Linked DNA regions of Homo sapiens: region 2 is linked to region 1. Evidence: fine-mapped expression QTL. Tissue or cell type: whole blood. Region 1 holds a variant in brackets; the other region holds the start of a gene. All regions are shown on one strand. Distances are from middle to middle.

What was found. PIP is the estimated chance that this variant, and not a neighbour inherited with it, causes the effect.
Region 2: PKP4 starts here. The variant in region 1 is fine-mapped to the expression of PKP4 in whole blood (TOPMed, PIP 0.96).

The regions. Positions count from the first base shown.
Region 1 is chr2:158,612,411-158,615,097 of GRCh38, forward strand. All of the region lies in intron 4 of PKP4 (plakophilin 4), which reads left to right. Among named protein-coding and RNA genes, the nearest start is that of PKP4-AS1, 120 kb to the right of the region's middle. The variant C/G (reference allele first, on the strand shown) is at 1,563.
Region 2 is chr2:158,455,481-158,458,167 of GRCh38, forward strand. PKP4 (plakophilin 4) reads left to right here and starts at 1,472. Exons shown (of 22, transcript NM_003628.6): 1 at 1,472-1,738. CCDC148 (coiled-coil domain containing 148) reads right to left here and starts at 1,273. Exons shown (of 14, transcript NM_138803.4): 1 at 935-1,273. The coding sequence starts at 959. It overlaps LOC124907900, which reads right to left and starts at 2,654. Exons shown (of 1, transcript XM_047446754.1): 1 at 1,651-2,654. The coding sequence starts at 1,974. The coding sequence ends at 1,651. RefSeq lists silencers at 1,177-1,471, 1,202-1,571, 1,792-1,841, 2,092-2,141, 2,162-2,221 and 1 more.

The sequences.
Region 1 (2,687 bases):
TTTTGTTTTTTCCAGTTTTGTACTTTGACAGACAATGAGAAGATTCTTTCTGCACATATATGAGTGTCTCTGATAGGATTTCTGTAACTGAAACTTCCTGGACAAGGGTGTATACATTTTAATTTTGACAAATATTGTCAGTTTGCCCACCAGAAAGCTTAACAATTTATGCTCCTACTGATAGCACCTGGTAGTCCTATCTACACTTACTATGTTACCAGAGTACAGGAATGTAAATCTTCATGATTATTTAAAATTTTAATAAGTTACTAGGCTTTAACAAAAACATTTGTTTCAAATTTCTCTATATCATAAAACAGGAACAGATTGAACAAAGTAAGATAATTTTTAAATATCATTATTAACTATTCATTAAATCATAACACTCCATGGAAACTTGAGCATACCCCGGACCATCATGCTAATTAACTCGTTCTCATGGAGATTGGAGATCAGCATGACCTTAGAATATAGTAAAAGTATCATACTGTTTCCTGTCAGTTTGGCTTTCTTCTGTCTTCATAGCTGGCTCAAAATGATCAGATACATTTTTCTATCATGAAAAATGCAACAACCACTACCAAATCAAGCAAAAAACAAACTTAAAAAATCACCACTGGATATAATTGTGGGTGCCAACATCTCACTCCAGAGGTTCCTACACACTGCTATACTTCAGAGTCACCTGCAGAGCTACTAAAATCTTGACGCCCAGGCATCACCCCCACACAATTTAGTTCGAAAGTCTGAGTTGGGAACCAGGCGTCAGTGGGGTTTAACGAGTCCCCAGGTGACTCCAGTGTGCACAGTTTGAGAACCACTGCTTTATTCTAAAACCTAGTCATTAAAGAGAAGAATTAAAAATTTATCCTGCCTGTCCTGTTCATATTTCAGGATAAGTAAATAATCCTAGCTATTATGTAAAATATTCCAAAAGAATTCCTGCTGATAAATGTAGAAAGAATAACAAAATTAGAAAAATCACTAGTTTGCAAGCCCTAATGAAATAATTCAAGCAAAGATTGTCAGTGGATGCTAAAACCTCTTAAGTTCCCAACCCTAGCTGCACAGTAGAATCACCCTGGGAGTTTTTTAAAGTTCCATTATTCAGAATACAGCTTAGACTGATTGAATTGGAATCTCTGAGTGTGGGACTTGGACAGCAATAGTGTTAAAATTCCACCCAATTTTCAACCCAGGTGATTGCATTGTACAACCAAGGCTGAGAACCATCGCATTAGGAGACAGATTGGTGGTAAACTTGACAGAGGATTAGGCTGCCACTACCTGCATTGCCTGATAGATCTTAGCAACCCTGAAAGTTGTAATGTGAAAGGTGTGATGTACATGGCACCATTCATAAAGTATGCTACCCACAAAGGCTTGACCTGAAAGCTTTTAGCTATAACCTTCTGCTTAAAGAAATAGTGTATTTAGAGGAATAAGTAAATGACATGAGAAAACCATCAGATAAATTCAGGATGTGGAACAACTTAAAAGTGTATTGCTGCAGTTTCCTCAGTTCATCAAAAACATGAAAATGAAGGAATGGGTGCCCCTTT[C/G]TAAATTGAGGGACTTAAATCAGTTGTACTCAAATGCAATCAGGAAACCTTATTTCAGCTTGACGAGTACAAGCCAACTGAAGAAACACATTTCCAAGACATCTGAAAAATTTGAATTTGAACACACTATATGGCATTATGGAATAATTATGGTTTTATGAAGTCCTTATTTTATAGAGATACAAATGGAAGTATTTAGAGTTGAAATGATCCGACGTGAGAGATTTGTTTTGAACTTCTACAACAAAGGAAAAAGATAATGGAAAAAAGTATGCATAAAGTAGAACTTTTATATATGTTTAAAACTTCAATTACAAAAAAATTAAATACAAATGCTTTAAACAAAAGTTTTGAAATATCAAGGCAAAAATGGTGTGCTGGAGTGACATGGTAAAGCCAGCAAAATTTTGACCATATTCTGAAGGTCAGCCCTGACATAAATGATATGAAGAAACCAACTATGAAATGGATGCATGAGTTTCCCAGCCAGTGGATATTACTTAATTTGTAGTTTCCACATATTTGGGATTTTATTAAATGAATTTTTATCGAACAAATTACCTATATTATACAGAAGATCAGCCTTTCAAGTTTAGAACGATAGATGTCTCAATATGTTTATCGTGGGCCACCACCAAATAAGAATATTAGATTTTGCCCTAGCAAACATAACATCTAAATATTCCAAAGCCACTTATGCATGATATATGAACAGATTCCCAAAAGCACATTATATGAAAATCAAGAATCCAGTTTTAGCCTTTAATATTTTATGTTTGATATAAACATGCCAAATATTTAAACTTTCTCATGCTTTTAGTGATATGTGAAGAAATGTGCTACTATCTAAAATAAAATAGAAATTGTCAAGTCTGAAAACCCTTCTTTTTCTATTACCACCTCCTCAAAACACAGAGCCTTCGATCCTCAATTTACAACTGTTGCTTTGGGAAACATCTGAAAGCCACCCTCTATAATTTCACATTTCATTCTTATGACAAAGTTAGTCTGCATGTGGCTTTATCTTAGTATATTTTACAAAAAAAAAAAATAACTAGTGGAAAAATATAGAAGATCTTATTTCAAAAGAATCGTTTCTTTCTTTTTGATAGTGAATATCATCCT
Region 2 (2,687 bases), 160 kb before region 1:
AAGCATATCACCCAACTTAAAATTCAGAACAATACTTAGACATATGCAGCTTGCACACACATTAACCTGTTTCTCCCAACAAAATATTTGTAATTTCCAAAATCCTATCAGCTTTTTCACACAATATGGTCCCTCCAATTTGAGGGGTAGTAACATAGTCTCCTTACTAAAGAGATTAGTCTAAAAAAAGTAAAATCGCCAAAAGAATGTAAGAATATCAGTGGCTATAGGCTAGAGCAATATCATCTTTTAAAGCCTAATATGTTCATGAAATCTCACTTTAAGAAGGTGATATCTAAACATAAAATTTATTGACAAAAAACAATTAGTATTGATAAACCACCACAAAATGATTTTAAATGAAAGTAGAAGACATTATTAAAGCTCAAGATTTTTGCGTGTACTGATTTCATGCCTCAGGTTATTTCCATATCAAATTTAAAGAGATACTGGAAAATAGAAAACAAAATCCATCAACTGTAATCCATTTCCCTTACTCTTTTGTGAAATCATCACAAGGTGTGAAGGATTGTTTCTGTTTCCTCTATCTTTAACAAGCCTGTAACCTCTCAAGTGAAAGAACATGCACCTGTCAAGCTCATAGTGCGGGATGTACACACAGATGTGTTTAATAAATATCTGCCCACAGGGAGATTAGAGGTTTGCTTTGAGAATCAGGGAACAGGCTAGCTCATGTGTTGACGCTTTGGCATCTATCATACAATCCGCCACCTCGTTCCCTTACCAAAATATCCTCAAAGGAAATCCTCTTTGAGTCTTTCAGAAGAGTTATGAGTTTGAGGACCCAAAACGTTGAGGAAAGATCCACCCCAGGGAAGGGGGAGTGGCTGCAGAGAACAAACATAAGTAGGATTTAGGTGGCTCAGTGACGTCAGGAGGAAGCAGCGATGGAAGGGATGGGGTGCAAACTCACCTGGAGAAGCAGAAGCTGCACACATGTCAAAGGTCAAAGGGCATAGCCTCAGGGACTCCCCAAACGCAGGAAAAGTGAAACGCCCACTCCTGGGCTCTCGCCGTCAGGGGTACATCTAAGGGCTCAGCTGTTCCTACCTTTGACGCCAGGGACAAACCCTACCAGGCACAGTTGGGATTGGCAGTAAGGCAAGGAAAGCCTGCCCCAGATTTCAGAGCCAGCGCTGGGGAATCTCCCTGTCCTCTCCGCCACCCCCTCCCGCGCCCGAGACCTGAGACACCTTCTCTCTCACACCCACCCTCTCCAGGCCCTCTCGCGCTGAACAGCATCGGTCTCTATGGCGACCTGAAACCGCAGCTCCCATTGGCCTGTTCAATATGAGGGCCGGGCCAATGGGGAGGGCCAGCCCTCTCCTTCCCGCCAATGGGGTGGCGGGAGCTGGCCCGGGGACGGCGGCGTGCTGACGTTCCCGGGAGCCCGGGGCTGGCCGGGCGGGAGGGCTGGCAGCGGGGCGGGCGGCGGCGGCGGCCTCTGGGCAGTAGAGGGGGCTCCGGGGCTGAGTCCGCGTCGACGCCGGCCGCGGAGGCGGCACCATGGGCAAGGGGTAGAGGGGCAAGTTGGCCACCGCCGCCGCCGGGGGTGGTGGGAGAGCCGCTCCGGGGGCGGGGGCCGGTGGGGGAGGGAGGGGCGGGCAGCCGCGCCGCCGCGGCACTTTTTTAATTTTTTCGGGTGCCGCAGCGGCGACCCCTCGGCGCCGATGTCCCTGATCCCTGGAGCGACGACGGCCGCTGCCTAAGCTGGAAAGTAAGTGTGTGGGCTCGCGGGAGGGCGCGGAGACTCCTGCCCACGAGACCCTCGGCCCTCGCCCCGAACACGCGCCAGGGCCAGGACCTGCGCGCCGGGGGCCGGGGGCCTCCCTCCCGCTGCCGCGTCCCCAGCGCCTCGCGGCCGCCGCGGCTTTCCTGCCCCGCCTCGTGTTCCTGCCCGCACTCGCCTGCTGCTCCCCTCCCCCCGGCAGGCGCACAAGTTTCACCCTCCATTTGCTTTTCCCGGCGATTCCTCTCCCCGGTCTCCCGTACGCGCAGCGCACGACCTCTGCCCACGCTGGGCTGTTCGGATTCAGAGCTCCCAGCCCCGAACTTGAGCGCCGCGCTGAGCCCTGCTGGACGCCCTCGCGGCGGCTTCCCCGCTGCCTGCCGCCGCGCGCCCCAAGTCGCCCTCGACACCACTGGGCGCCCGCCCTCCTCAGCACTCGGGGCCGGCTGTCTGTCCTTCTAGCCCCAGATCCTGCACCTTGGTCCCCTCCCCGTCTTCCCACGCCCCTGCTGCCCGCGCGGTCTTGCGTTTGTCCCCGAAGTCCTGTACTCCTTGCCGGTCCTGCCCACCCCTCTGCCTAGTGCGCCCCTCTCTACCGGCCGCGGATCCTCACGCTCCACCCCTCCCGGCTCCCCAGCGCCGAGCCTCGCCGCTGCCCTCCTGCGCCGCCGCTTCCTCCTCTCCCTGCCAGGAGTTGAAGCGGAGCTGCGGCACCTCCCTGGCGGATCTGGTATCCCCGCCCGCTGCCGAGGCTGCCGGCCCTCTCCCCTGGACCGCTACCCGGAGAGCGAGCGGCGGGGCCGGGATTTGGCTGCGTGTTGGCTGAGTGCGACACACCGCGAGCGCGGGCAGTGGAGGTGCCGCGGCGGCCGTGGCCGCTCGGGGCGCAGCGGTAGTCAGGTGTGTGTGTACAGCGGGGGACGCGCGCTGCCGGCTC